Linked DNA regions of Homo sapiens. The protein of the gene in region 3 interacts with the protein of the main gene of each other region in a pairwise test. Each region holds a gene or a part of one and is shown on either strand. Other genes may lie near its edges.

Region 1 (6,786 bases), on a different chromosome or scaffold from region 3:
TTAACAGTGAGGGATCAGGATATTTGTTGTGATAGAAACATAGGCAGTAGCAGTACAGAAATTTCAGTGTCCCAGTTGGCCATCTGCTATTAGGTTTCTGGACCACAGCATGACTCATGACTGCTTTTGTCTTCTTTCTATAAAAACTGCTTCAGACTATCTTTTAATTCTTCTCATGCAAAGTAGCAGCATTTGATTTATCGGTAGTGTGGGCAATCTGTGTGGTTAAAGAAAACAGTTCAGGAGTCCGTCAACCCACATTGAAGAACACCTAATCCTCCAGTGAGTGCCACTCAATCTTGCTGGTGTTAGCAACATACAGTAAGGTCATTTTGACTAAGGTCATCTAGGTTGCAAGGTTAGGCCTTTGGCATGCTGATCAGTAGTGCTAAAAGAAGCCCATATACTAGATAGAGGTTCTGCAATGAAAGAGGCTAATGCCAAATGCTTCCTCCCCTTTTCTTGACTCATCAGTGCCTGGACCAAGAGGCACCATGGATGTGCACCTCATCAGAAGAATGCACATAAAAGCAACAGCACAAGAAAACACTCAAGGCCACTAGTCTTGCACAAGTCATCTTGTTACACAATTAGGTGACATGCTTAATTCTCCCCAGCATGGGGACATTCTTCCTTTCTGCAACTTCACACACACAAAATCCCTGGAGCTGTCCCAAGTGTGTACAGTAATAACGTTCACATGGCTACTCCAAGCATCCAGTGATGGCAACCAAACGAGATGCAGTTACCACAGAGCAGTAGTCTGACTTTTGATAATCAGGAATAAAGAACCCAGTGGTGAAGGTGCTGGGTCACTGCCTCAATGTGGGGTACCTTGGAAACTGCCTGCCAAACACAGGTCAAGGTGGAACATACATCCTCCTGGGGAACGGCTGGTCAACCAGTCATGTCTAGGAGTTGAGAGTTCTACTGTGGGAAGAGGTGGCAACAGCTGATAACACAAAGCACTGTGTAGACCAAAGTGAAAGTCCACCATCAATTGCTGTTTCTAATTCAGGTGACTTCTGTTATATTATGGAACCAGTTAGACAAAAGCAGGTAGTTAAAGCTGAAAAGATATCATCAGTCATGGTTGGTTCATTCTGTTGGTAATGCCAATTGTTTTCACAGTCTCATGGGTGACAGGAAAAATTAGGACCCTAAGACTACTGGGAAAAACACGTGACACCCATGAGTGTACAGATAAGATTGAGAGAAGTTATTAGTTACATACATTCATAGACAAAAAAGGGAGGGTTCTGTAAACGAGGCTGGTCCACACAAGACTTGCACTACGGAGCAGATAGAACAAACAGGGTGTAAGGGGAATGCTTTGTAGTATCAAGAACGTGAGATGCTTCTTGGTTCTCATAAGGATGCAATTGGTTTGTTTAAATGCATCTGTGGAATGGTAGGCAACTGAAATATGTTAGGCTACAGACTGATAAGATCAAAATAGTATGTTATAATGCCATAATCCTGTAATATACAATTTATTGTAGTGCTAATTACACATAATATAAACTAGTTATGCATAATTCATAGTAACTTACAAAACTGTACTATACCACATATTATATAGCTACTTATACACATATAAGTATACATGTAGACATGCTATATATACAGATGATGCTATACTATATGGTATACTAGGGCACACCAATTTGACTATAAATGCAAAAGGCCCCAACAATACACTGGAAAATTGAACGTTATCAATATGGGTTGAGTGTTTCTTATCTGAAATACTTGGGAACGGAAGTGCTTTGGATTTCAGACTTTTAACATTTTGGAATATTTGCAGAAAACTTACTGGATGAGCATCCCTAATCCAAATATCAAAAATCCTCTAATGAGCATTTCTGTTGAGCATAAGACTGGTGCTCAAACAGTTTTTGACTTCGGAGCATTTCAGATTTGGTATTGGAATCTGGGGTTTACAGATGTTCAACCTGTAGATAAAATACTTATATTCCATGATGAAGACAAATTTCACCCAGATAACCATAATATATTTATATCTGAAAGCCAGTTAACGTAATAGACTATCAGTAGAATGCCAAAAACCACAAATCATCTCAATAGATGCAGAAAAAAACATGTCATAAGAGTTCAACACTCCTTTACCATGAAACAATAAATAAAAAACACAAGAAAACTTCCTGAGCCTGTTTGAGAATATTTATGAAAAATCCACAATATACTTGATGGTGAGACTGAATGCTTTCACACGCAGATTAGACAAGCATACTGTCCAATCACAGTTCTCTCTTCTTAATTCAAAGTAAAAAGTGGGCCAGGTGTGGTAGCTCATGTCAGTAACCCCAACATGTAGACAGGCTGAGGCAGGAGGATAGCTTGAGGCCAGGAATTCAATACCAGCCTAGACAATACAGCGAGATCCCATCTCTATAAAAAATTTTTAAAATTATATAATTAGCTGAGCATGGTGGCATGTGTCTGTAGCTCCAGCTACATAGGAGGCTAAGGTGGGAGAATCACTTGAGCCCAGGAATTTGAGGCTGCAGTGAGCTAAGACTATTATTACCACTACACTTCAGCCTAGCTGACAAAGTGAGACCCTCTCTAAAAACATAACATTTTTTAAAAAAGTGAACTATGCAAGTAACAGCCAAAACTCATGACAGAATAAAGGAAAGAAAATGAAAATAACAATGTACATGAGACTATATAAACTTCACATACATGCAAATTAATAACAATTCTTTATTAGCAAAGAAAACAGAAGAAAATCTTTACAACAAAAAAGTAGTTTTCCCATAAAAAGGTAGAATACACACACACACACACACACACACACACACACATGAACTCATTTTTCATTGGTCCATTAATTAGAGAACAATTAAACAACTACATGAAAATTAAAATTGCCTACTATTAGAAATACATTTCAACTTAGTCTAGGGATCCAACAAATTTTTAAATGAATAGACAAAAATTATGTTAACTGATGAGAAACAAAACACAGCCTATTAAGCTCATGTACTATGGCTTATAAAGTATCTGTGAAATTCTCAGCTCCATGATTCCCTGCAAAAAACTGAAAATCTAAAGTATAGACACCTTCTTTAACAATGAACCACTGATAAAAATATATTTGAAAGCGGCTGGGAAAATAAAGTGTTCTAACACATTTTTCGTATTTTATGACGTTCTTTCCCAGGACGGGTCCTTCTAAGTTTTAGAAGGGAACTAGGAAAATTGCATACATTCTAATCTTCCTTACATGTGTTGGGTTTCTCTCTAATTTGAGTTTTTAATTTTTTCACGTGTTCTAATGAAACTAGAATAACTGAAAGCTTTAACACACTTCTTACATTGACAGAGGTGTTTTGTTGTTGTTGTTTTTTACCACATATAAGCTCTTTCATGCTTTCGAAGGGAACTGGAACAACTGAAGGCTTTACCACATTTCTTACATTCATAGGGTTTTTCTCCAGTATGAGTCCTTTCATGGCTTCGAAGGGCACTGGAAGAAGTAAACGACTTACCACATTCCTTACATCCATAAGGTTTCACTCCAGTGTGAGTTCTTTCATGCTCACATAGGTTACTAGAATATTTGAAGGCTTTACCACATTGTTTACATTCATAGGGCTTTTCTCCACTGTGAGTCCTTTCATGGACTCTGAGGACTCTGGAACATCTAAAGGCTTTGCCACATTTTATACATTCATAGGGTTTTTCTCCAGTATGCGTTCTTTCATGTATTCCCAAGTAAGTGGAACGACTGAAGGCTTTGCCACATTCCTTACATTCATAGGGTTTCTCTCCAGTATGAGATCTTTCATGTTGGCGAAGAGAACTGGAAAAAGTGAATGATTTACCACATTTCTTACATGCATAGGGTTTCTCTCCAGTATGAGTTCTTTCATGTTCACGAAGATAACTTGAATAATTGAAGGCTTTATCACAATGTTTACATTTATATGTTTTCTCTCCAGTGTAAGTGCTCTGAGGCATTTGAAATACACTAGGAAAATCAAAAGGCTTCTCATACACTGGACCCTTATAAGGCCCATTACTAGTGTGTGTTACCATGTGTCTGTCAACACTGGTGAGAGAGATAAAGGCTTTCCCACATTGTTTGCAATGATATAACTTCTCTGGACATTCCTCACACTCAAATAGTTTGTTTCCAATGTGAGACAGGATGTGCCTATGAAGGGCTGAATGACATATGAAGACTTTTCCACACACACTGCATTCACATGGCTTTACTCCAGTAGAAACTTTCTTATTCAGATTCAAATTTGAATCCTGGCTGAAGGTTTCTCCATATTGACTGCCTTCTTTAATTTCAAACAGTCTCTCTACCACATGACTGCTGTAAAAATGATAAACATCATTAATGGTACATTTATTCATGGTTTACATTGCTACTAATACCATGGAAAATGCAAGTTTCCTGCCATATCTAAATTGTTTTAAAGTAAATAAATTAATTACTGTAAGATATGGGTCCCCCATAGCTATTATCATTATTATCATAATTGTGATAGTCACATGTACAGTATCTTGGTGGTGTTTCCAAGTAAAATATTCTGAAAATATTGAACATCAATGTTACATTCAGGTGTATTTTTTGCTAAGACTTTTCTGGAAAAAAAAAATTTCTAGTGGTTCTTAGTTGTTTTGTCTGTTTTAAAAACTTATGACATGCTAAGATTCCCTCAAGGGGCATTTTTGCTCTTGTGAATGCAAATTACCTTAGATTTCTCCCAGGATTTTTGAAGTCATCTTGGATATTCTGGTCTTCTGATTTGTTTCCTAAAAGGTACAACCATAAGATTATTCAAATGATTAGAAACTTTAAAAATTGCTAGATTCAAGGTTCACTATACACTGTGACCATAACTAATTTTTTTCACCAAAGTACTCCCTTTCCACATGCCAAATCAGGAAACATTCATAACCAAGAAACACTTGTTTTCTTCTTCTTTTCTTTTTTCTTTCTTTCTTTTTTTTTTTTTTTTGAGACAGATTGTTTCTTCGTTGACCAGGCTGGAGTGCAGTGGCTCAATCTCGGCTCACTGCAACCTCCACTTCCTAGGTTCCAGCAATTAACCTGTCTCAGGCTCCCAAGTAGCTGGGATTACAGGCGCCTGCTACCACGCCTGGCTAATTTTTTTATTTTTTTGGTAGAGATGGGGTTTCACCATGTTGGCCAGGCTGGTCTTGAACTCCTGACCTCAGGCGATTCACCCGCCTTGGCCTCCCAAAGTGCTGGGATTACAGGTGTGAGCCACCACGCCCAGCCAAAACACTTGCGTTGTAATCAACTACGTGAATAAGTGTTGTTATTCTTACCTACAGAAGCCAGGTTCCTGAAGATTTCTTGCATCACATCTCTGTAGAGATTCTTTTGAGAAGGATCCAGCAAAGCCCACTCCTCCTGAGTAAAGGCCACAGCCACATCTTCAAATGACACTGAATCCTAGAATATCGCACATATGTGGAGAGGAGGATGGCTTAGACAGACAGTACTAAGAATCTATACTCATCTCATAAAATCGTAACATAATTCTGCAGACTTCAAACATTTCTTCCATGACCTGGTCATCAGAACTTTACTCTCTGTCTGCACTTACTGCTGCCCACTCAACATTCTTCATGCTAAAATGAAACTATTCAGAAAGTCAACAGCAGAGTAGGAACACCTGTCTCATTGGCAGGTGCAGGGAATAAACTGTGCTGTAAGAAATGAGGTCACCCCTAATTTCTATGTGTAGATTTTATCTTAAGGGCCTCTCATAACGAAGTCATGCTATTTGTTGTGTATAACAGTTAGTATTAAGTCTTAAGACTACATATCCTTAGAAATACCTGCTCACAAAGTCTGACCTTTTGGTGTGAGAAAATAGATTTTTTTGACGGATCTCATCACCCTAAGTGAGTGGTTCACAATATGTAAACAATCTTATGCAAACAATATATTATTCGCTGAACTCCAGTTTTGTTTTGTTTCTGAAAGCCTACTACTTTACTCCATTCTTGCAGTGGTACCTAGGGGATCAGCTCTGAAAAACACTCTGAGCATTAAGTCTCTAATGAGCATTCTTGGTAAACAATATTTCTCATATGCTGTTACAACTTGTTAACTGGAGAAATGAGGCATCAACGTGATTATAATAAGAAAATATTTGGAAGCTTGCAAGTAGTTTACTCCAGACCAAATTAAACCCAGTTGTAAATAAGACTGATAATTTATCTTTAATAACAAACAAAACAATTTTAAAATTTCTATTGGATAACAACAAAGTGCAATGGAGTAAGTGGAAAGATAGTACGTGTGCTTAGAAGAAACTCAATGTCATCAAGATATCACCTCTTTCAAATAGCCTTAAAAAATTCCATCAATCCCCAAAACAGACACTTTATTAGCAACTGAAAACTACTTTTCCAAACCTAACAAAAAAAAAATGTCTAAGAATTGTCAAAGTCTTCCAAACAATAGGGCAATGGCTTCCTTACCATGTATCAGAATTTTCAAACTATAATATTCAGGACAGTATTAATGTGGAGATAAACAAATAGTCCAAAAGGGAAAAAAGTTTTAAATAAGCAGGAATTTATTTTTATTTTATTTTTTTATTTTATTTTTTTGGTGAGATGGAGATTTACTCTTGTTGCCCGGGCTGGAGTGCAATGGCGTGATCTCGGCTCACCACATCCTCCGCTGCCTCCCAGGTTCAAGCGATTCTCCTGCCTCAGCCTCCCGAGTAGCTGAGATTACAGGCATGTGTCACCACGCCCAGC
Region 2 (7,285 bases), on a different chromosome or scaffold from region 3:
GATAGGGGAAAGCATTAGGAGAAATACCTAATGTAAATGATGAATTAGTGGGTGCAGCAAACCAACATGGCACATGTATACATATGTAACAAACCTGCACGTTGTGCACATGTACCCTAGAACTTAAAGTATAATAAAAAATAAATAAATAATAAAAAAAGATAAAAAAGAAATTGTTAACTATAGCCTATAAAAAATTACCTTATACTGTATACATAATAATTTCCATAAAAATTGGAGCTATACCTGGCCTAAAATTTAGTGCAAGTCCTCAACATCAAGCTTTTTCCTAACTGGAAATTTAAATATCAACTACAAATTGAAAATTGCATGTTGACTATGTCATTGAAACGAAGGAAAGTTAATATTCTTAGGAAATAGTCTAATCAAACTGTTACAATCTGGTAAACATCTGATCTTGTTATCTATTGCTGCATAAATAGTTACTCCAAAACAGTGGACAAAAACACACCATCATGTTTTGGGCCAGGAATTTGGGGAGGACTTAGCTGAGAAATTCTTCTGTTTCATGTGGTGTCAACTAAGATCACATGCTGGTATTCATCTGGCAGTATAATTTGTCTGGAAAATCCAAGACAGCTTCACTGCCATGCCAAGTGCCTTGGCAGGGACAGCCAGAAAAGTGGGCTTAGCCGGGCTGATCTTCTCCATGTGGTCTCAGAGCTTCTTTATGTGGTCTCGGAGACACACAAAGCTCACTTTGGGGTCATCTTTTTGGCATCTTGAAGGATTCTTGCAACTCAGTCACTGGAAAGCAGGGTTGGCAGACTTCTTCCATGGTGGCTCAGGACTTCAAGAGCAATTGTTCTAAAAGACAAAAAGTGAAAGCTGCTGCTCTCCAAAGGCTCAGGCCAGAAACCACAGCATCACTTTTGCAGTATTTTATTGGTCAAATTAATGATTAACCCCACTCAGATTCAAGGGAAAGTGACATAGACCCCACATCTTGATGAGAAATGCCAAATAATTTGTAGTCATCTTTAATTTTCCACAATACCTTTATCCACCTCAGATTTAAAGTCTGAAGGAAAAATAAGCCTTTTTTTGAAATCTTTTCCCAAATAACTTTTTTCTCAATTGTCTCCATCCCCTTTCAACCTCACTAAATAAACCTGGCACAATTATGAGCTAATCAAGTTTATACATGCTTTCATTTTCACAAAGTAACAAAGTGAGCTTCCAATATTACAGTTTTACCTTTTCTCTTAGTCTTTGAGTCCTAGATCTCAACATCTGCTTTTTTTCCCTTTTAAGTGCAGTTAGAAGGCTTATCAATATATCACAGGAAGCTTTCTCCTTTTTAAATGTTAGAGTTATTTTGTTAGTAAAATGGCCAAAAAGTGTTAGTAATAATGTTAGACAAAAATTGTTTAAAATAAAGGTATTCTGGAGATCCATTTTGTCTGCTCTTTGTCTCTATATCCTTGTGTTTCTCTAGTGTCAAAAGACGGAGATTGGTTTTACTCGGAGTTCTGTCTTAAGCTCTCTTTGTGCTTAGATGCTCTTTTCTTCTGGCTACATTGCATCTGTGACAAAAAGTTGACTGTTTCACCTAGGTCCCTGGGAACTATGCCAAGTCAATCATCCTTGGTGCAAGCTGACTTTTTAAGTGAGACTTTCATATCAGCTTCTTACAGTAAGTCATGCCAAGTGGAACTTGGAAAACAACTGCATTGCAAAAATCCTTCAAGATGCCTGGAAAAGGACCCCAAAGTGAGCTTGAGGGACACTTCCAGGTTGAATTCAAGTTGTTGTCCAATAATTTCTCTGTCTGTTGTTTTCTGAGATGTTCTACGGCTTCAGGTGAGATTTGAGCCCTGGCACGGTGTGAGGAGGGATCTCTCTCTCCCTTCTCCGCAGACGCCCTGAAAGAAGAATCTATAGGGCTGGCAGTAGGGGGCAAAGGGCACTCCAGAAATCTGTCCTAGGCTGTTTTTTAGCACCACACACTTCATGAGATATCTTAATCATTTTAACCATTACTGAAAGGTGGAAGGCTCCAAAATATGGATCTCAAGCTAACTCTCTTCTCATGACTCCTAGACCCACAAATCCCTAAACCAATCCATTAACAAATAGCAACATCTACAGTGTAATGCTTCCTAGGATTTCGAACTTAACATGGCCAAGCTGTGCTCATAAATTTCTTCTCAAAATGCTACTTGTCATTTAGTGTCCCCTGTCTTGGTGGAGGGACCACCATCCTCTGACGATACCAGGCTTTTTTTTTTTTTTTTTTTGGTTCTCTTATCCCCCACATAATCAATGATGAAGCCCTGATCCATTTTTCCTCCTGAGAATTTCTCAATTTCATCCCCTCATATTTGGCATTTTAAAAATCAGGCCTCTCCTGATCTCATTTAATCTTGTGTGTGTGTCACTTCATATTTTTGTCAAAGTATCTTTGAGATGGATTTCTAGAAGTGGTATTGCAGGAACAAAGGGTAAACTTACATATATAATTTTGCTGTATAGTATTATCTTTCATACCTATGGGTTGTACCATTTTGCATTCCCACTAGAATGTTAAGAGTTTCTCCTTCCTCATGAGTAGAGCATGCTGTCAAACTTTTGTACCATTGCCAATCTGATGACTAACGGTGCCTCAGTCAGCATAGTTTTTAATTTGTATGTTCATATTTTGAGTGAAGTTGAACATATTTACAGATGTTTGAGGGCTGCTAGCATTTCTTATTCTGTCAACTATTTATTTCTTTTGGCCATTTTCTCTATTGGGTTATTGGTTATTCTCAACTTTTAGGAGCTCTTTAGGTATTTGGAAAACTAGCCCTTGCCTGTGATATGTTGCAAGCCTTTTTCTTTCCTTATTTTTTTTTGACAAGCAATACATTTTATTTTCATGTAGCCAGATTTATTATTTTTATGGGTTTTAGATTTTGAGTCATATGGTTAGATAATGTTTCCCTATTCCCACGTGTTAGAATTATTATTCATGTTTTCTTCTAATACATGTATAGGTGGATTTTTTATATTTAGATCTCAGATCCATTTAGAATTTATCTCTATTGTGATGTGTGGTGGGAAATACAAATCCAGTTTTACCTTTGCCAAACGGTTATCATCCCAGCACAACTTCTAAGTTCTTCATTTCCCTGTTGATATGTGGTGTCACCTTCATCATTTACTCAATATCCTTACATACCTGGATCCATTTCTGGTCTATTCTTTCTCTCTGTTAATACACTAAAATTATATGGGTATGTTCCAGTATCTGATAAGGTTGACCCTCACCATTTTTCTTTTTCATGGGTTTCCTGGCTATTCTTATTTCCCCACATGAATTTTATAATCAGTTTATCTAATTCCAGAACAATATTTGTTGATATTTTTGTTGGAATACTACAGTTGCATACGTATTTAGGGAGGACTGACCTCTTTGAGTCTTTCCAAGAACCTCATATCGCTTTCTGTTTGTTTAAATGTATACTTGGCCTTTTAGGAATGTTTTAAAGCTTTCCCCATAGAAGTTTTGTTCATTTCTTGTTAAGTTTATTCCTAGTTTCACTTTTTTGCTGCTCTTGTAAATATGGTCTTCTCTTCCATTATATCTCGTAACTCGTTATCATTGATTATTCACATATATGAAGGTCGTTGATTTTAGTGTGTTAACTTTATATCTTGCTATTTTACTAAATTATCCTTTTTTTATAGTTTTTCCATTGAACCGGGTTTTCTGACATATAATCATACATCAGCACATAAAAGAGAACATCAAAAGAATCGTGGATGGCGAAAGAGCCGGCAGAAACCAGCCGGCTGGCCCTTGAGAAGTCTGTGTGGAAGAAGTCCCTTCGCCACCGCTAAGCGCGGATTTGGGAAGGTCCCCCGGAGAACATCCCTTTGAGGCATCTCTAACCTCAGAGACACAGAATCCCAAAGTGAATGGAGACGCAAGGGATTTCCCTGTCTTAAGATCAGTTCTACAAGCCTCGACCACCCATCGGGTCGGGGGAAGTGTGGACAATGGCTGGGTAAAGAAGAGGAGAAGATAAACCCGTTCCATTTACCAGCGGGCCTGAAAGCCATCAACCTTCCTCTCACGTAGACGCGCGGAAACACTACCGAGTTGAAAGCCCCTTTCGCTCCCTTCCTAGAGCGGCCGCGGAAGTGCGCCCCGCGCGGGCTGGTTCTTAGACCCCCCGTGGCCGCTTCCGGCCTTTGTGGGTCACTTTTGATGGGTTCCGGGTCCCAAAAGGGTTCGAGGCCTCTTGCCTTCGCTCCGTAGGAGGGAGTTCTCTTCTGGCCCTGGGGGCCGCAGGTGAGCGATGTTGTGCTCTGTACGCTGCGAGCAGGTGGGCGGGAGATTGCTGTATTCCAGCTGCTGGGCCCCTCAGGCCCTGGCCGGTGCAGAGTGGACCCCGGTCCTCCCAAACCCAGGCGGATCCGCGGGAAGCTCTCCCTCCCCAAAGTGCGTTGGGACATTAGGATGAGGGTTTGGCTCCCAGTCTCTGCAGCAATTCCAGGCTGTAAGGCCCATACCTTCCGCGTTTGCTTCGGGCTGTGTATCCTTGGGTTCAGCGCTTACCGACATTTCTGGACAGTGGTGGGTCACAGACGCTCGCCGGCGTCCTAGGGACCCTTTCCTGGGCCTTCCTCACTTCAGATTATAATCACAGACCACGAGGTTAGAGGGAAGCCTTAAAGAGTAACCTCTTCAGCCTTCTCACTTTATAAATGAAGAATGAGGAGCAGAAAGATTAAGTCCCTGAAGAAATAAATTTACATGACTGTAGCTTTTGTGATTTCATGGTTTCCACCAGACATCTGGACATTCAAAAGATAAAAGTAACTAATCAAGGATGTCCTAACCTTTTGTTATTATTATTTACTTGATCTAAATGTTAGTTTTATTCCATTTGTCTTTCATTTAGGACCAAATGAGAATAAGTTTACCAACAAGTCTTACTCTTAAGTCCTGAAACAACTTGGCACCTTTCCTCAGTCTTTCTCTTTAAATTAGTCTAATCTTTTTTTTTTTTTTTGAGACGGAGTCTCGCTCTGTCGCCCAGGCTGGAGTGCAGTGGCGCGATCTCGGCTCACTGCAAGCTCCGCCTCCCGGGTTCACGCCATTCCCCTGCCTCAGCCTCCTGAGTAGCTGGGACTACAGGCGCCCGCCGTCACGCCCGGCTAATTTTTTTTTTTTTTTTTTTTTTGTATTTTTAGTAGAGACGGGGTTTCACCATGTTAGCCAGGATGGTCTCGATCTCCTGACCTCGTGATCCGCCCGACTCGGCCTCCCAAAGTGCTGGGATTACAGGCGTGAGCCACTGTGCCCGGCCTAAATCGGTCTAATCTTAAGTCTTTTCTATCAGAGTATTTTTCTGAGTAAGTATTGTACATTAATCCGGAGGTCAGATTTCAAAGGTCATAGTTAAGTTCTCAGAATTTGCAGTTTTACTTTATGGTGGAGTTTGTATTAATAATGATGGCTTATTCTTCAGGACTGTCCAGGAATACAGTTTCCAGGTGAGATCTTACTTGAAACACCGGTAGTTCTAGCACAGCTAAAATGGCATCTACTTGGGCTATCCAGGCCCACATGGACCAGGATGAACCTTTGGAAGTAAAGATAGAGGAAGAGAAATATACCACCAGACAGGATTGGGACCTGCGTAAAAACAACACCCATAGCAGAGAGGTCTTCCGTCAGTACTTCAGACAGTTCTGCTACCAGGAGACATCTGGTCCCCGTGAGGCTTTGAGCCGACTCCGAGAACTTTGCCATCAGTGGCTGAGGCCAGAGACCCACACCAAAGAACAGATTCTGGAGCTGCTGGTGCTGGAGCAGTTCCTGACCATCCTACCTGAGGAGCTCCAGGCCTGGGTGCAGGAGCAGCATCCAGAGAGTGGGGAGGAGGTGGTGACTGTGCTGGAGGATTTAGAGAGAGAACTGGATGAACCAGGAGAGCAGGTGAGAAAAAAGATGTGACTTCTGCTTGAGAAAACATAAATTGTGGATTTCTAGGCCAGAGTGAAGAACAGCCATTTTTTCACAAAGCATGTTTTTGACAGTTTGGTGCATCAGAAAGGGGCATGAGTTTCACGGAAAGTTGGCTAATGTGGTCCCAACTTATTTATAACTTTTCTGTGGAAGGATTTTATATTTCTCTATTAAGCTACAAAATTCTGTTTGATAAACATGCTGCTCATCTTAGAAAACTTCTAAGACAAGAGAAAGTATCAAAGAGATGACAGTAGCAGGATGGGAAGCAGTCTCTTGGAGGGGCATCACTCTGTTGCACAATACAAATAATTAAGAATTAAGGTTTTGCAGATATATCCATTGCTCTGACTCCATTACAGGGTTTTAAAATGAAGACATTAACTATTTCAGGGGAATGAGATGTGGGAGTACAATGGAAAGTTAGTGAGGAGAGCAGGGTGGGGAATCTGTGTTTCTTTGAGTAGCAGAAAGCCCAGTTAGGTTGGAAAGGTGAATTCCAAATAGCAGAGTTGAGATAGTGTCCAGGACCTTGAATCTCAACCTCTGGAATTGAGATTTTATTCTGTAGGACAGATGCCCCTAACCTTTTCTCCTTGAGTCTAAATGAGCTTTACTAATTGTAAGATGTAAAAGAGAACCAAATTATGTAGAACGTTTTTGTTTTGTTTTTAATACTAAAATGAGACAGTGGTTCTCAACCAGTGCCAATTTTGTGCACCAGAGGGCATTTGGCAATGTCTTGGGACATTTTTGGTTGTTATAACTTGGGGAGGTGCTGCTAGTATCTAGTGGATCACTCGGGGAGGTGCTGCTAGTATCTAGTGGGTAGAGAGGGCAAGGCTAATGCTAAACCTCTTAAAACACACAGGACAGCCCCAGACAACAAAGTCAGTAGAGCCAATGCTAGGAACATGTCAGTAGAGCCAATGCTGGGAAACCCCGGTATAAAGAGTTTGAAACTTAGGGAAATAATGAAACAGAAGTATAATCTAGCACTGTGATACAAAATGCAATAGAGAGGGTAGGAACATGTGGCAAAAATATCTAAGTTTGAAATAGGATCATGAGGCCAGGCACGGTGACTCATGCCTGTAATCCTAGCGCTTGGGAGGCCAAGGGAGGTGGATCACCTGAGGTCAGGAGTTCAACGCCAGCCTGGGCAACATGGTGAAACCCCGTCTCTACTAAAAATACAAAAGTCAGCCGGGTGTGGCAGGACATGCCTGTAATCCCAGGTACTTGGTAGGCTGAAGCAGGAGAATCACTTGAACCTAGGAGGCAGAGGTTGCAGTGAGCCGA
Region 3 (7,111 bases):
AGAAATCCTCTCTTCCCCACAAGACCTGCAGCATCTTTAACTTGCTGTGCTCATTTCCAGTCTTACCTGAAGCCAGCAGGGTCACCCAGCCCTCTTTGGCCTCTGCCACCAGAGATAGGCCTCTTGGAAGAGAGAAGGGGCAGAATGTGCTGGGCTGGGGAGACAGCACCTGCACACGCTTTTCAGGAATAGACGGGCCAGACAGATGGCAGCTGGGGCAGCCAAGGATACATCTCTCCATACACACAGCCCCTCCTCCCACCGACCAGAGGGCTCCTTGTGAGAGGAAATGAGATCATGTACTGCCGCTTCAGGATCTGAGACTCCCCACCCTGAGTCTAAGCCAAGCTCCTCCCTGGGCCCCTAGGGCCTCAGCGATCTCTGACCCCTCACTCCGCTGCTGACCCCGAGGGCAGCATCCTTCAGTACTGGAATGCTAAGCCAACAGCAGCAGCCCTAATCACTGCATACCCTCAGGGCCTATGCCCTGCTGACCTCCCGTAAGATTATCTGCTGCAGAGGGTGGTGCTCCTGTGTCAGGAACAAGGGTCCATAAGTGCTCCCACAATGTGGGGTGAAAGACCTGTGGGGCATCCTCTACAACGGGCTTCAGAGACTGCCGGTTTACAGATGGGGAAACTGAGGCCAGGACTAAAGATAAGGCCTTGCCCAGGCCCCAAGGCTCAGTGAAAGGCAAAGCCAGTATCAGCCCATTCTCAACCGACCCATGCTCCACTCCTCCAGCCATTCCCAATGAGAACCTGGGGCTGACCCTCAAAGGCCACGGCCAGGAGGACTGCAGCTCACGTGCCAACTTCCAGCTCCACTTGCAGTCCCCAGGGACCATCCCACCTCCATCTTGGTGATGGGGCCTCATCCTTCCTCAGAAGGCACTGGCCCCTCTTGCCCCCAAGACAGTCGTCTCAGCCTCACTTTTGTCCCCACAGCCCACTCCCCGTGTAGCCACCAAACCCAAGCTGGACCCTGCCTCCTTCAGGGCCCCACCCAGGCCTGCAGGACTCTCCTGACACTCCTCCTGCCCTTGGCTCAGCACCACAGTGAACATGCCCCTGCCCCAGGGACAGGCACGGGGTACTGCTCTCCCCTGATATCTGCCACATGCCTTCTAGGAGAATGAGGCTTTGCTCACACTGTTTCCTCAGGTTCCACAGACACCGAGGCCCTGGCAGGGCTCAATTAAAATATGTGCCAGTCAGTGAGAAAAGACACTCAGGTGCTCACTCAACCTTCCCTGAGCCTCCTGTTCAAGCCAGCGAGACTCTCCTCCCACCTGCCCCAGTGGATGGAGACTCCTGGCTCTCCTCCTCCTGCTGGGCTCAAACTACACAGGTTCCAGGCACCACAGCAACCTTCCCAAATCCTGCTTTGGCCACATCGTTCCCCTGGGCTCCCCAGTCCTCCACAACTCCAGGGCCTTAGTGTCAGGGCCATGAGCAGCTGGTCCTGTGGCCTTTGCCCCTATCAGGGCCCAAGAGCCAAGCTGGTTCCTCTGACTTCATGTTCACAAGTCATGCACGGACTTGGACGGATTCATGGACGGACACCACAGTCCCATTTCCAGATGTAGAGCCTGTGCCATGTACCAATGGCTGTCCATGGGTACCCAGGACTCCAACAGGCTCTGGTGCCAGGGACCACCCACCCAGACCCTCCCTGCGGGCACTCTGCTGTGAACAAGGCAGGGGTGTGGCAGCTGGGGCTACTGGCGGTGGTCTCCACCCCTAATTCTCAGACACGCACACCCTACCTCGAGTCTCCATGGAATATTTGGGGTTTGTGTTCTTATTACAGCTGGGCACAGTGCAGGCCCTGAGTGACACAAAACATTCCCAGGGCAGGGGGGAGTCCAATGACGAGGAGTGCCCCATGGGCATCAGCCCTTAGCCTCCACAAGGGGCTAACTGCACCCCTCCCTGACTGACCACTCCTCTGCTCTGGACTTGCTCATGGGACTCGCTTCATGAGTGAGACAGAAGCAAGCCAGAGGCAGTGGAACTTGTGGGTCCATCTCTCTCCCTTCTGCCACGTGGAGGACAGTGGCAGTGGAGTGCAGTGGAGGATGAGACCAGGAAAGCAAGACAGACCAGCCAGCTGCAGCGTCCCCAGAGGCCAGCCCAGCCCAGCCACCCACCAGGCACACCTGCTATGTGACACTGGTGGCACTGCTGCAGCCACAGACTAGGCCCCTCCTCACCCCCTCACCTCCTTCAGCTCCTGGGCCACAGAGGCCAGGCGCTCATTCTCCGACTGCGTGTTGGTGAGGACATTGCGCAACTGCTTCAGCTCCGTCTGCAGCTCTAGCACCTTCCGCACGTAGTACTGCTCCTTGGAGGCCGACTCCTGGATCAGGCTCTCCTCCCGGCTCTCTCCGTCAGCAGCCACCTTCTTGTGGTTTGTGTGTGCTTGTCCAAAGGCCTGCATCAGAAGACAAGACACTCGTGAGGTGGGCCTCCCAGGGGCGCCGAAGGATAGAGACCCAGCTCACAGGCGACATTCATGCTGCAGAACAACAGCAACAACAACGGGGACTGTGGGCCTGAAGGGAGGCCCCCTGACCTGGGAGGTGCATCTGTGGCGTGCACTGTGGTGTGCACATATGCAAATGCAACAAGCTGCACCCAAGGTTCATCTGCTTCACCAAAATAAGAGAAAGCCTGGTCTCTGAGGAACAGTGTCTGCACTGGCAAGACAAGTGCTGGAGTCAGGGAGCTACAGTGGGCATGTGTGACAGCAGCTGGGGGCCGGCAGAGGGAGCTCCCACACAGCCCCCACCTTCTCCCCACTCCAGATGGCACGCCGGCCACCACATATGAAAGGCAGAGGGAGTCTGTCCATCCTGCTGCCTGATGCTGGCTCATCCTTCACTCCTTCTGGGAGAGACCTGGGCTGAGCAGTCAGAGCCCCAGGCCCGAGGATGGCAGTGATGGTAAGAACTAGACAGAGGCCAGCACAGTGTACCACCCACTCTGCCCAGTTCCTGGCTCAGAAGCCAAGATACCAGCATGTTCCAGAGGGGTGAGGAACAAGGGGCGCGGGGGCTGCACGTGGCAAAGAAGTGCAGGGCCTTGGGGCTCAGGGAGGAGACCTTATGGGTGAGATCAACCAGAAAGGGGTGCTCACCTAGCCCAGGACGCCCACCTGCCCACGCACCTGAGAGTCGACAGCTGTGTCATGTCCATGCCCCAAAATCCAGGCCAGCCAGCCTCCCATCGTGTACACCCCAGGCGAGTGGCCCAGCCTCCAAGCAGGTGCCATCCCTCTCCTTCCCTCCCACTGCCCACTACCCCCACATAGCTGGCGTGGCAGGACAGGGCTTCCATGGGTAGAGGGCAGACGGGCCGCAGTGTGTCACCCCCAGCAGCCCGTCTCACTGGCCACTCCACCACAGAGCTCTTGCAGAAGACCTTATCTTTTTACATTAATCCTGGCTCATGGCAGAAAACAAGATCAAGAGAGAGGTGACTGAAAGCGGATGGCTTTGTTTTCCTAAAAGAGAAAAAGGAGCATTTTTCACTCATTTACTATTTAATATTAAATCTAAGAATTCAGTCCAAGAAAATAGGGAAAATGTAAAAAACCATGAATAAGGATGTTACTGAGCAGGACAGTTTCTAATTTCAAGAAATCAAAACAAAGAGTAACTCATTTCGTCCCAACAGGAGACTGGTAAAAGAAACCAGGGTCTAGTCTGAGTATAGACTCTCATGGGACCAACAGGGGACTCAAGGGGAAGACAGACTGATTGATCTTACAGCACTGTGAGGATCACAGGATCCTGCCTGGAAGAGCACACATGTGCTATGGCAGGTGTGGTGACATGTGCTGTGATGTATGTGTTGTGTGTGTGTGTCTCGTGGTGTTGCGGGGGACACCCCTAAACAAGGCTAACAGGACAACACAGCCCAGCAGGAAGACTGGTGCTGGCAATGGGACTGCACGGGGGGACTCGGGATTGACATGGACACTCCTGCTGCGGATGCACAGATGTCTATGGCACCCACACTCCTGAGGAGGCTGGGTCTTGCTCACCTGCCCCCACCCATCAACACAACACCCACTACGTGGAAGATGTCCGCTTTTCTTCAAGGCAATCGGGTCAGCTCTGTGATTTCTGCTCTGTTCTTCCTTATCCTAGTCCCAAGGAAGGTCCAAATCATAATGTCTACACAGCACCTCATCCACCCTGGCCAGCCACCCCGGGCCACAAGAAGGGAAACCGGACATGGAATTGGCCCCAGCTGCAGGCTCCCCACCCAAGTGGCAGCCAGGCCCCAAGTCCCTCATTGGGTGAAGGGCCCGCCGGCTGCAGGCGGCATGGGCAGCGCCAGACCATCTGGGCCTCCTGACAAGCAGGAGGGACCCAAATGAAGGGTCCAGCACACATGGCTGCTCAGAACACACCCACGAGCCTGGAGCTGGGGATGCAGACATCACCTCAGAAGCTTCCTCCAGGTATGACAGCTAAATGCCATGACACGACATTCAAGTCCTAGCCTCCTGGCCTGAGCCCTGGATCTTTTCCTCTGCTTAAGCTCCCAGCCTGGGGCCCAAAACACTCCTGGGCAGCTTTTCAAACACACTGAGATACAGACTTCCGCGTACAGCCAAGATGAGATTGTTGCAGAAATTAGAACTACCTTCTGTGTGAAAACTTAAAAAAAAAAAAGAAAAAGAAAAAAACCAGGCAATGATAGAATATAAATAAATAATAAGCAGTGGTTTTCACATCATGGGCACTAGATAGTGAGAGACAGGAGGAGGGGAGTTCCAGGAGCCCCCTCCACCAAAAGAACTTCCCAGCCATGGAAAAATGGGAGACTGAGGCAAGGCGTGGCAGACCCTGTCAAGGAGGGACTGGAAGATGGCGGAAGATGGCAGCAGGGCAGCCAAGCTAGGCAGACCTGCACACAGGGCCAGAATCTCCACTGAGGACCAGGGAGCACAGAGCTGAAGAAGTCACTGAAGGACCACTGAGGGGGCAGAGAAAGCAATCCCCACCATTTATACCAGCCAAAAACAGTACCTGCTCCCAACAGCAGAGGAGAGCCCTCCTGATGCACAGGCAGCTGGGGAGCACTCCCAGGGCCTGAAAAAATTAGTCTGGATTAAATCTGCTCTGATACCACAGAGCAAAGCATAAAGACAAAACCTGAAAGGATCAATCTGATTCCAAGTCACTTAACTACATCCCAGAACAAAGCTCAAGAACACATGAAGGAATACAAAAACATCCATCTCCCAACAGGTGAGGTCCACTGGCTGGCATCCCGTCACTTACCACTGAGCAGGCAAAGGCGCACAAATGAGGAAGACAGAAAAAGATCCAGATAGAACTTCTAGAGACGAAAAGTACAGTGGATGGGATTCACAGCAGATAAAACAATGCAGAAGAAAAGATCAGTCAACTTGAAAAACCACAGCAAACTATCCAAAATGAAACACAGAGAAAAAAAGGCTAAAAGACAAAAGCAAGACTCAAACAGAGCATTGGTGAAGTATGAAGTATGACACAATTTCAAGAAGCCTTATGTAAGGAGTAATTGGAGTACCCAAAGGAGAAAAAGGGGAAAATAGAAAAAGTAATTGAAGAAATAAATCATAGCTGAAAATTTTCCAAATTTGATGAAAATTATAAACCCACAGATATCAGCAGCTTGTCAACACCAAGCACAAGAAATATGAAGCAAACTACACCAAGGCATAATATAAAATTGTTTAAAACCAATTATATAATAAAAATATTTAAATCAGCCAGAAGAAAAAGGATACATGACTCAAGAGGAGCAAAGATAAATGACAGCTGATTTCTCTAACAAGCCAGGAGATAGTGGAACAACATCTTTTAAACAACAAAACAAAAAAACTTAACTAGAATGCTATACTCACTGAAAACTGTTCACAAATAGAGGTGAAATACTTTAGAGATACAAAAGCTGAAAGAATTTATCAACAGCAGATATGCATTGGTATTTAAAGATATGCTAAATAAAATCCTTCAGGCAGAAGAAAAATAATACCATATGGAAATCTTTATCTACATGGAAGAAATGATAATTAAATAGGCAAATATAAAGTACTTATTTTTCTTATTTAAATCTCTTTAAAAGATAATTAACTTGAAATTCAATGCAATCCCTACCAAAATTCCAAAGCCTTTTTAGCAGAAATGGAAAAGGTGATTTTCAAATTCATATGGAATTGCAAAGGGCCTAGAAGAGCTAAAACAATATTGAAAGGGAATAACAACGTGAGAGAACTCACAATTTCAAAACTTAATACAAAGCTACAGTGATCAAAACAATGTGGTACTAGTGTAAAGATAGATACAGAGACCAACGGGATAGAATAGAGTCCAGAAATAAAACCTCATATATATGGTCAATTGATTTTTGGCAAGGGTACAAAAATAATTTGATGTCAAAGAATAGTTTTTCGGCCAGGCACGGTGGCTCATGCTTGTAATCCCAGCACTTTGGAAGGTCGAGGCGGGCAGATCACGAGGTCAGGAGTTCGAGACCAGCCTGGCCAACATAGTGAAACCTCGTCTCTACTAAAAATAAAAAAAAATTAGCTGGGCGTGGTGGCGGGTGCCTGTAATCCCAGCTTCTTGGGAGGCTGAGGCAGGAGAATGGTTTGAACCCAGGAGGCAGAGGTTGCAGTGAACCGAGATCACGCCACTGTATTCCAACCTGGACGACAGAGGAAAAAAAAAAAAGTTTTTCAACAAATGATGCTGGGGCAAGTAGATACATATATGCAAAATAATGAAGCTGAACCCCTACCTCACATTATACACAAAAATTAACTCAAAATGAATCAAATACCTAAATATAAGAACTAAAACTATAAAACTTTCAGAAGATAGGCTGGGTGCGGTGGCTCATGCTTGTAATCCCAGCACTTCGGGAGGCCGAGGCGGGCAGATCACGAGGTCAGGAGATCGAGACCATCCTGGCTAACACAGTGAAACCCCGTCTCTACTAAAAATACAAAAAATTAGCCAGGCGTGGCGGCGGGCGCCCGTAGTCCCAGCTACTGGGGAGGCTGAGGCAGGAGAATGGCGTGAACCCGGGAGGCGGAGCTTGCAGTG

Evidence for each region.
Region 1: the proteins of BICD2 (region 3) and ZNF670 interact in binary tests that used the Homo sapiens proteins (3 or more experiments, as listed by UniProt).
Region 2: the proteins of BICD2 (region 3) and ZSCAN12 interact in binary tests that used the Homo sapiens proteins (3 or more experiments, as listed by UniProt).

Annotation. Positions count from the first base shown.
Region 1 is NC_000001.11:247,034,074-247,040,859, forward strand, and holds the end of ZNF670 (zinc finger protein 670), read right to left. Parts: intron 5,465-6,786; coding exon 5,338-5,464; intron 4,798-5,337; coding exon 4,737-4,797; intron 4,355-4,736; coding exon 3,376-4,354; 3' UTR 564-3,375; downstream 1-563. UniProt on the Homo sapiens protein: May be involved in transcriptional regulation.
Region 2 is NC_000006.12:28,396,672-28,403,956, reverse strand, and holds the start of ZSCAN12 (zinc finger and SCAN domain-containing protein 12), read left to right. Parts: upstream 1-4,209; 5' UTR 4,210-4,300; intron 4,301-5,190; exon of another isoform or gene 5,191-5,367; intron 5,368-5,483; 5' UTR 5,484-5,551; coding exon 5,552-5,953; intron 5,954-7,285. UniProt on the Homo sapiens protein: May be involved in transcriptional regulation.
Region 3 is NC_000009.12:92,726,801-92,733,911, forward strand, and holds part of BICD2 (protein bicaudal D homolog 2), read right to left. Parts: intron 2,437-7,111; coding exon 2,224-2,436; intron 1-2,223. UniProt on the Homo sapiens protein: Acts as an adapter protein linking the dynein motor complex to various cargos and converts dynein from a non-processive to a highly processive motor in the presence of dynactin.